Linked DNA regions of Homo sapiens: region 2 is linked to region 1. Evidence: fine-mapped expression QTL. A gene starts in region 1. The other region holds a variant in brackets. All regions are shown on one strand. Distances are from middle to middle. Region 1 holds the start of SLC38A1 (solute carrier family 38 member 1). Region 2 overlaps SLC38A1 (solute carrier family 38 member 1).

Region 1 (5,377 bases):
CATTCGGGTCTGAGGACAAATGTTATACCCTCACACCGCCCCTCCCGGTGAGTCACTCTATTTCAAGCATCCTCCCCCATCACATGATCCTGTTTTATTTCTTCATTGCACTAAGAATACCTGAAATGTATATGCCTACATTTATATAGTCTATTTCCCCCTGAGAACGGAAGCTTCATAGAAGGTGAAACAAATCTTGTTAGTTGCTGCCAGTCGCACAGTAAGCCCTCTGTAGAAAATGTTTATTGGCCACATTTTTTTAAAAAGCGAATAAACCTCAAGATTAAGACCTCAAACCAAACTATTCCAGTTTCCAATTGCTTACAGCGACATACTGAGAAATCGAGTGACTCTCAAGAGAAAGGCCATTTTGAGGCTGGGGTCGAACCAAAATCCAGGGGGTCCACACCAGGTCAGTACCCCGGAATTGGCTGTTTTGCAAGATTTCGGGAGTACCAAATTGGCATGAGACATTTGACAACGAGGCCAGCCATGCACCGAGCTCAGGTTTTATTTCCGTTGTCCTTCTGACGTCAGAAAAAGCACGAGTTGCTGCACAGTTTCTTTTATCAAGGTGACAAATTACACCCTCGCTGGGCCCTGCATTCTGCAAACCATAAATTTATTTTCCTCCTCCCCCTTATATTGAAAAATGTAAAAACCCACTGCAGAGAGGTCAAAACCCCTTCCAAACGCAAATAAATACCGTTTTCTAGCAGAGGCGTCTTTTTTCACTTTTGCTACACACATCACCGCGGATTCGTCCGAGAAAGTACGTGATCCTGGCGGCAGTTAGGTTTCTAACAGAGAACGAGGGTTTGTACAAACCCCGGGTCCGCGCCGCAGAGCAAGACAAAGGACTCTGAATTGTAGCACCACCTTCCCCAGCCCAAGGCAGCCTGTGAAAGGCACTGGGAGCGGCGTGACGCGGGTACCGCGAAATTCCTTTTGCTGCCATATGCACTTGTGCCTTCTCTAACTACAGTTCAGCACAAACCTCAGGCGGGCGATTTGGCAGGCAAACGGTGCCCAGGCAGCCGGGTAACCTACTGGGTCCCAGTGGGTGCTGGGGAGCCCCATGCGCCAGGAGGTGGATAATTTAGGGGGCAAGGGGCTCGCACAAGGGCGAAGATGCGCTCTCCTCCCGGCACCGACCCACGCGTTTAAAGGCCTCTGCGGCAACGTTTAGGGACGCGAACTAGGTGCCGGGGGTTGGGGAGGAGGTGGGACTGGAAGCGAGAGCAGTCTGCGCCCAAGACCGCGCAAGAGGTGGCCTTTTGTTCGCTGGCTCCAGCACATCCCGGCTCTCGAAAAAACACTACCTCTGTCCCCTGCCACCCTCTGCATTTTAGAAAATCCTCTTCAGGGCAGGAAAGGACAGTGAGTCACTGCAAGCATCCTTTAGTAATTTCTCCCCGCGCCCTCCTACTTCCCCGCGTTACAGAGGGGCAGAGCACCAGGAAGGACGGCAAACATGCCCCGGTTTAGTGGTGGTCCGCGGCCGCTACCCAGCCGGCCGCACGCAGCACCCCCCGGACATCACACGATCTCCTCTGGGCCTTGCGGACACAGGAAATTTTCACCAAAGGCCGGGGATTCAAACACTCCCAGAACACGGTCGCGCCCTCGGGTCAGCTGCGCTCTCCCTCCAGACGTGCGTGGTTCCTGGCTCTCGTAAAAATGGAACCAGATCTGGTACCACACTCTGCCACAGCCACAGGAAAACACACCAAAGTCACAGGAAAACAAACCAAAAAGTAAGCCACAGCCCACGCAAAGGTGAACTCGGGGGCCCTGGCGCTTCCTCCCGCTGCCGCGTGCGTTCGGGAAGCACAGGAGACCTGGACTTTTCCTCTCCTAAAAGCAACATCCGAAAGCATCGGGCACAGCCGAGCTCTCTCTGCTTTCACGCCCGCAGAGATGATTTCTACGTTACCTCCTCCTCCGACATCTAAATCTCCCCTTGCCGCTCGCCCAGCCCTCCCCGGGAACGGATAATCACCTTACCTCCGGAAATAAAGGGAAAGGTGGCAAAAGGCGATGTGGAGGTGTCCGCCCTTCCGGGGTTTTTACCCTCGGCAGTTTGATGTCCTTTGTGTCAAGGTCTGGCTGCGGAGGCCGGGAAAATGTGGCCCCCGTCAGTAAGGGTTGGGCAGGGAGCTTGGCGTGGCCTGGCGGATTTCGGAGGAAGGTGAAGGGCGGAGGCTCCTGGCGACCTTCTGGCGGAGTGGCGTGGCCGCCCCAGTCCGCGCTCGCCTGGCTCTCCTCCTTTCCGGGCCGATTGCATCAGAATCTCCCCTCACCACCAACCCCCACTCACACTCTGCTCGCCGGCCTCGCACTTACATCGACATGCACCGGCGCTGAGGGTCACGAATCGGAGTCATTCTCCTACTGGGGGACGCGTGGCCCTTCCGCAACCATGGCTTGTGATGGTTTAACGCGGACAGGCCATTCCTCCCCGTCCCGCGCGCGGTCTCCTCCCCTCCTGTGCGCCCGCTCTTTAACCAAAGCTGCGTGTCAGTGAGCCGTGCCGGTCACATGGTGTCACTGCTGGCGGCCGCACCTTGCTGCCTCCCTCTTGCAGCTCTCTGACGATGCAGCGACCGCGGCTGGCGGAGATTGAGCAACGGGGAAAGGGTGAGGGAGGGGTTGCGGGGCGCGCGTGTGCCCGGCGCACTGAAGCTGGCACCGGGAGCAGAGGCTGCGCGCCGCCCTGGCACCTGCCCCTCTCCCTCCCGGGGCCCGGCGGCGTGTTCGGAACCCAGCTGCGGCTGCAGCTGGAGAATGAGAGCCCTTAGGGATGGGGGTGGGGCGGCTAAAGGGGCACCGGCGGAGGACAGGAGGGCTGTGCGTTCCGCTGGGGCCTGCATTTTGGGTACGCCAGAGCCCCGCCGGGGCCGAAGGAGCGAGGGAGTTGCATTGTGGGAAGGGCGCAGCATGAGGATGGCCGCGGGAGTGGCAGGTCCGAGCGCAGCCCGGAGAGCCGCGGGCAGCGCCTGGGACTACGGGCAGCGTTGGAGCGGAGGGCTGGCCCTGGGCACAGCCTGCAGATGGCCCGGGTTGGCGGGAAGGGGACCGAAGTGGCAGGGGCGGCGGGGAGCTCGGGCACCTTTAAAAACCCTTTGTCCCTAACCTGAAGCGGGAGGCACCTCCCCTCTTCCGGATCCAGCACCCGCAGACCTGGTCAGCCCTTCCTGAGATCTGCCCTGTGGAGCTCTGCTTTGGGGACTGGGTGTGAGGTGAACCAGAAGGATTTGCTGAGCACCGAGAAAGCACCGGCCTAGGCGCAAAGAGCCGGGGGCCAGCTCTTGGAGGGCCTGGAGACCCCACGTGGTCCCGACCGAAGGACCTGGTGCGTCCAGGTTAACGGAGCTGGGGCGCTCCAAGTCCGGGGGACGAGGGAGCGGCATGGAGGGGAGCAGGGGCAACTGGGCCTGGTTCCCTTTTTTCCCGCTTACTCTTTGTTTCAGACACAGCCCCCTTTCACTGGCTGGGCACTTGCTTGCAGAGGAGTTGTGTCTTAAAATGGCGACAGGAAATCCCACCTGCGCCTCAGCCAATTAGACTGTCATAGCGCGAATTTGCAGGGTGGAAACGCGAGCTTTTTATTGATAGGGAAGGTTCAGTCTCCTGTTCATGGTTCATCAAAACAGGAAAGGGAAGGTGAATCATAATTCAAAAATTAACTACCTGGAGCGTTTCAAGTAGACAGTAGTCATTGTATTTGGGTGAATTTTGCTTTTTCATCACCACTGGAAAAGCAAGATGATAACCAAATTTGAAACTCATCACGGACTAAACTTCTTATTCCCTTCGAATGGCAGTAAATGGCCTTTATTAGTTCAACAGTGGCTTCCTGAGAATCCTATTTAGAAGGCATGCTCTTGAGAAATACTGAAAAACAGAAAGTTCAGAGCAAACCAAAAGGGCAAACACATGGGCAGCCTAGCTCAGACAGACCTGCATTCAATTTCTTCCTCTGACACTTACTGCTTCCCTCATCTGCTTTACTTTTGTCCTAATCCTGTTTTCTAAATTTGTGAAAAAGGGGAGAAGAGTACACACAACATAGCAATATTCTATAGGTCATCAAAAAGTTGGTTCTTTCTACCTTACTAGAGGAAGCTAATTTATTGTGAAATTAATGATTTTAAGTAGTGTGCACCTTGCCTGGCACAAATAATTCTTATCAATAAGGTAAGAAATCTGAATAGGTAAAGTAGATGAACTGTGAGCCATAGCTTAATAGGCCTGTTGGAATATTTACCTTATTAAAGGCAGAATGTGTATTCATCGCTGTTTGGAGATTATCTGAACCAAGCTTGTCTTTTGGTTCCAATTTTAACTTACTTGCTAGTTTCTGTATATCAAAACGACTGCAGTTATTTAGCACTTTTTGAATTGGAATCAACAGTTATGAACTGAGCTCCTATGATATGGCAGCTATTGTGCTAAGGACTTTACATGTAAATATCTCATTTAAAGCTTTCAATCCCTCAGTTGGGTATTATCCTCTTTAAGAAAACAAGTACAAAGTTGAATTGGCCATGTTCACCTAAGACAGTAATTAGTGAAGGGGAAGCGATTCCCTTTCAGGTCTGAATTCAAAATCCGTGCTCAGTCTTCACAGTGGTGCTACAACCATTTGCAATCAGACATTCTTGGGCCTAGAGTTAGAAGGATCTTCACCCCTTCTCTGGATTTTAGTTGACAACCTAGAACCAGAGTAAACATCAACATGGAGGCTGCTGTTTTCTCAAATTGAGGCCAGGGATGTCTAGATGATTCCTCTATTCACTGTGTGCTTACTGAGAGACAAACAGCAGGTTAAACACTTCACAGATGGTCTCTCGTTTAATTCTCATGACATTCCTGATAGGGCAGCCTATCCTAATCCCTGACTCAAAGGTTAGGGAATTTATCCCAAGTCCACACAGCCCTAAGTGGCACATCCAAATCTTGCATCCAGAGCTGACTGGTAAGCCAGTTTTCTGTGGCTGGATCTAAAACGTTCCCTGATTCTGGAATAACCATCTTTGGAGGGTTAGTGGGTGGAAGGGGTCTCGGGCCACTCTGTCTCTGAATAGGAACCACTGCCCTATTTCAGTAGAGTCCAGGGAGTTAGTTTTCTCAGTAATAGGGTTGTGAGGTCCAAGAGACTTGTCGATAGTATCTAATGTTATTTGTGGACCTTTCCCATTTGAACAGATTTCCAATGTTATTAAGGTATTCAGGACACATTACCAGGTTTGACTGCAGACTGCCCTATGGAACTGAGAAAATTCTGTATCTGCTCTGAAAGTGATGCCAGGGAAGGAATTTGTACTATGAAAATAGAATTGGGTAGCTTTAGGTCACCTGAGAGTTTTCTTGT
Region 2 (5,377 bases), 85 kb before region 1:
CCTTTCTGGTATTTTTTGGATCATTTATGCATTCACTATTATGATCTATTTATTTATTTGTACCCAGTTCAATTCTAAGTGCTATGGCTTTATATAATTTGGGTAATTTGTCAGGTTATTTTGGTGGTGTACTGACTCTCCCAATGAGCAGATTATTCTACCAACTTGGATTAGCCTAACATGTAAACTAATAAAAGATTTTTAAAAATTGATATTCAAAAATTGGCCTAGTTATTTGGGCCTCATCCACCCTTTCCAAACTAGGTAGAACACAATTATAAATCTAGAAAGTAAGAAAACAGGACATCTGAGTTGCAAAGTTATCATTAAGCCCCGTGATGGTTAATATTAGGTGTCAACTTGATTGGACTGAAGGATGCCTAGATAGCTGGTAAAGTATTGTTTCTGGGTGCATCTGCAAGGGGGTTGCCAGAGGAGATTGACATTTGAGTCAGTGGACTGGGAGAGGAAGACCCATCCTCAATGGGGGTGGGCACCATCCAATAAGCTGCCAGCATGGCTAGAACAAAGCAGGTGGAAGAAGACGGGCTAAGCTGGCTTGCTGAGTCTTCTGGTGTTCATCTTTCTCCCATGCTGGGTGCTTCCTTCTATTCCTCCTGCCTTTGGACATCAGACTCTAGGTTCTTTGGCTTTTGGACTCTGGGACTTACACCAGGGGTTTGTTGGGGGCTCTCTGGCCTTTGGCCACAGACTGAAGGCTGCACTGTCAGCTTACCTACTTTTGAGGCTTTTGGACTCGGACTGAGCCACTACTGGCTTCTTTCTTCCCCAGTTTGCAGACGGCCTATTGTGAGACTTCGCCTTGTGATCATGTGAGCCAACTCTCCCTAATAAACTCTCTTTCATATATACATATATCCTATTAATTCTGTCCCTCTGGAGAGCCCTAATACAAGCCCATAGTTAATTCCATGGGAAAGGCAGAGAATAGCTCTTCCCTGACAATTCTGTGTAAAAAAGGACGGAATGGAACAGTATTAGCAAATACTCATGGAGGGAGAGTAGAAGGAAGAAGCCAGAACTATCAAAGGCACTGCAGGACTGGCCCTTTCAATTTGGAACAAAATCTGCTCAGATTCTCAATAGTCTTTTAACTTTTACCACTGCTTGAGTTTAAAAGTGCTAATTACTCACTCACACCCTTTGCCCTTGGGGTTTTGATCAATTAAGAAGTAGGCATAGGAAGCATGTAAGGATAAAAATATCAGCTTTATTCCTAACGAAGTTATATTGGAGAACATGACTTGGACTCCCGTACCCCAGGTTTCTACTTTGAGTTTTGCGTGTGTGCCACCGAGGCCCTACAGAATGCACTGCTGTCACCTGGGTAGGCCAGAAGAGTTCATCAAGGGGGTCTTCATTCCCAGCCACACCGTAAAAGACCCAGGCTATTCCTGTGCTAGCCCTGTCCACAAGAAGAACTTGGATATCAGACTTTGGCCATCTTGCTGGTCTGGTAAAGCCTTTCTAAGATGCTGGAGAGGAGTTGGTGATGGATAAAAAGACAAGGCTGCACTAGCTTTGACCCAATAGTTACTGAGAAATGAAGTGTTGATAGAATTTCTTCTTTTATAGGTGGCAGCAATGTGGGTAGAGGAAGACTCAACTCCTTCCTACAACACAGGGCAGAAATTAATACTTATAAAGGTAAACTTGACTTAAAAAAGAAAATATTATGGTGAATCTACTCTGATTATGAAGAATGGAGAAATGTGGTATATGTTTCAGACCAGATAGATTTCTATCAGAAGTATTTTTAAAAATATTTACGTTAGGGTGCTTAAATATATAACCTTCTATGATCTAGAACACTGACAAATATGTATAACCCTTCTCCAGCAATCCTGAATAGTGTATATAGTACACAACTGCCCCATTTTAGTATTGCATTGCAAAAGAACAAACACAACATTTTTAAATACTTTTAGTTCACATTTTTTAATGTTTAAAAACTATGTTAACAGAGCAGTTATAGAACAGAACTTCTTATATTTCTTTATTTACACCACACTCTGAAAAAAAAAACCCAGTTCTATTTGATTAACTATGAATAGCAAAGTTTTGTGACTTGTGACTCACTTAAATCACCCATCTGAAATTCATTTACAAGGTTTTTACATTAATAAAACAGTAGTGTGGTACATGTATTGGACTCAGATGAAGTCTAAAGTACACTGGACTCTAGAGAGTGGATTACATACCAACGACCAAGATTCAAGTGTTTGGGGAAAAAAATACCTTAGACAGTCTATGTTGGCGTCAACACTAAAATAAAAGGCAAACATGCAGGACTTTCAAAGCTTGATTAGATAATGGTTCTTTGTTTTCTTTCCTTCAAATTTGTGCTCATAATTAATATTCAGGTTCCCTCTCCCCGCTTTCATAGATCCCAAAGTTTGAGAAATGCAGCAATTCAATTGTGAAAAAAACATTCTTCTCCCCAGCTTCTGTTTTCATATGTACTGTGTAGTGGTATCAGTGTTAAAAATGGAAGATCATTATGAAGAAACAATTTGTCATTTGGGTATATCTGTTTCTATAGGACAAGGATTTGTGTCTAAATATTCCTTACTTGTATCTCAGAGGACTATCTGTTAAATAATTGATCTTAATGCCAGCATAAGAAATCAAGGGAACTATTTCTCAGACATTTCTTTCTCTAAATTAAGTAGGGTTTCAGGTTCCAAGTTTACATTGAGAGAACTATGTTACCTGGGAGAGAATGTAAATTTTTCTAATTCCCAAACAAAACCACTAATTTCTAGGAAACATTTATTGTTTATATGCAGATCCTAGAGACTTCTATTTCAGTGCAGATCAACAACTTCAAAAATATACAGCCTCCTATTTATTTACAATAATATTTACATACAAATGAAGTATTTCCTGCAATAAGCCTCAGCTGCATAGATTCTTCCTTTAAAAACGTAAATTTGAGCCTGTATACAGATGGGCCCAGTTTCATAGCCCTTCCTTAGATAAAAGCCTAAAGAA[G/T]GAAAATGTCTGCACCTTGTGAACTTTACATATTTTGCAAGAACTTTCTCTTTGAGATTTAGTGATAGTTTTTAGTTGTTAGACACCCCACCTTCAGCTTGTACCTGAAAGCTTTATCTCGTTATAAATAATTCACTGTAATTTAGGGGAAGTATGTCCTGTTGCTAAAGGATTCTCAAACCTGCCATCCCCAAGGAAAATCATGTATTAGTATTGCTAAATGATGGTCTGTATATTCTTTGTTTTGAAGGTGGCTAGATGTTTGCTGTAAACTTGAATGGGAGAATTATATTCTTAAAGTTTACACCCCCTATAAGCCTAAAGCCATTTAAATTGATAAACTGAGAGAGACTAATAGATTTTGCTCTAAGGTATAAAATCCATTATCTGATCATATTCCTGACCTCCCCCCGACTCCAACTAAATGTGCCATAGTCCAACACTGTGCCTCACTGAATTGGAACTCAGTATTTCATTCTTTTGAGAGCAGTTTGTAGCTCCTTAAGCAGAGCAGACCTTTCAGTAGAGAATTCGCTTTAAAAGGAGGACAGGATTATCACCACACGATTAACACAAACACTGGAGAACTTCTGACACAAATTCAGTATTTCTTCTAAGTCTGCATTTACAAAGGGTCTTTTATTTTAATTTCTTTCACAACTGCCTCGCCCCAACCAAAGCCTCACTTTCATTTCCTCACAGCTTTAAAAAATAAAATATTATCATGCCTCAGCCCGAGGTAACACCGAGTGCAGGCAGCCTGTGTTTAGGAATTTGCACCTGCGCTGCTATTTTCAACGAGAAGGGGATAACCAGGTGGCAGCGCTGGATTCACTCACTTTCTTGCCATTGCAGAGACCCCTGCCGCCAGGCTCCTTTCCTCCCCTCCCTAAAGCCTGGCTCCTGTATGTTGCACCATGAGTCCTAGGAATCATCTGGTGAGGGAGGACTAATGGGAAGTAAAAGGGAGACTCATTGGCTTAGGGTGGTTCTCAAACTTGATGCGCTTTAGAATCATTTGCTGAGTCCCTCCCTGAGAGCTTCTGACTTCACCATGTCTGGGAGGGGGCTGAGAATCTGCATTCTAATGAGGTCCCCGATGATGCTGATGCTACTGGTCTAGGGGCCACACTTTGAGAACCACTGGCTTAGAGGCATGAATCAAGCTCTAGAAAGCAGTCAGTTCCAGGGTAATAGTCTTAGGTGCTCGCCGAAGCACTGAGGAATCTTACCACAACCCTGTGTCCACCACAAGCCCTATCACCATCACCCATCTGGGTGCTTCTTTTTCTCAACAGGGTCTGTAACTGTAAAAAAGGAAAGTGGGTGGAGAGGTTTTTTTTTCCCCCTTTTTTCTTGTTTTCTAACCTCCCAGCTTATTCCTGGAGAGTTAAAACACAGTTACTAGCACTAAAAACATTAAAAGTGCTGCGCGCTGGCCTCAATGACTGGTACATTGGAGAAGCTATGCAGCAGCATCCTTTTCTGTGGTGGGCAGGGCAGGAGATGAACCATAGGAGCCAAAAGTCAGACAAACAGAAGAAGGCACACCAAGCCTGAACCCTCCGGACAACAGCAGAGTTACCAGCTGAGGGATGTCCCTGGAGGTTTCTGACCCATGAGAGGCCCCCTCACCCTCCTTCACCCTCCTCCTACCACCAAGCTCTCCAGCAGTCATGGACTTATTCCTCCCCGTTTTTACTGGACACCATGTTTCAGGCCAATCTGGTCACCTGTAGTCTGGTGGCATCTCTACCCCTACTGTCCAGTAGGTGGGATGTGGCTGGGATGGACAGTCCAGATTCTACTAACAGGCAACTCTGAACAAACACCCTCCCTGGAAACAATATTATATTTGATGGTTAGATTCTTTAGCAAACCTATTACATTATTCGATGTCAGCTAACCTATTGGTTTGATCATCTTTTCCAGCTGCTCTAGGGGCCTAACCACCATGGATAACCTGGTCTCTAAAGGAAAATACATTCCAGGTTGCAAACAACCAACTGACAACCTTTTGGAATATGATCTCCTTATACACTGGGGCTGCCTGTGCCTAAACACAGTAGATTTCCCTCCTGTGCGTATTTCATCAGCCCCACTTCCAATAAGTAACATTAAGTAAATTAGGGATTGACAGTATTCTGTGTTACAATAACTAGAGAACAGTTCTAAGTCCAAAGTGTGGAACTGGCACTGTTCACTAGTATAGAGATCCTACCTACCAAAGGAAAACGTGCTGCTCCCCATGCCTAGGGTATAGTATTCTTTAATCTACTAATTTAGCAGAAAAACTTCCATAGCACTTGACTGTGCTGTTTAAATTCGACCTAACATCTGTGATACATGTATTTTTGGCTAC

Evidence for each region. PIP is the estimated chance that this variant, and not a neighbour inherited with it, causes the effect.
Region 2: its variant is fine-mapped to the expression of SLC38A1 in whole blood (INTERVAL, PIP 0.96).

What each region holds. Positions count from the first base shown.
Region 1 is chr12:46,266,519-46,271,895 of GRCh38, forward strand. SLC38A1 (solute carrier family 38 member 1) reads right to left here and starts at 2,525. Exons shown (of 17, transcript NM_030674.4): 1 at 2,008-2,525. LOC105378248 (a long non-coding RNA gene) reads left to right here and starts at 2,553. Exons shown (of 2, transcript XR_001749101.1): 1 at 2,553-2,640. RefSeq lists enhancers at 16-999, 1,925-1,984, 1,983-2,965, 2,105-2,154, 2,205-2,304 and silencers at 2,715-2,894, 2,975-3,074.
Region 2 is chr12:46,181,123-46,186,499 of GRCh38, forward strand. SLC38A1 (solute carrier family 38 member 1) reads right to left here. Exons shown (of 17, transcript NM_030674.4): 17 at 1,941-5,377. Among named protein-coding and RNA genes, the nearest start is that of SLC38A1, 85 kb to the right of the region's middle. The variant G/T (reference allele first, on the strand shown) is at 3,016.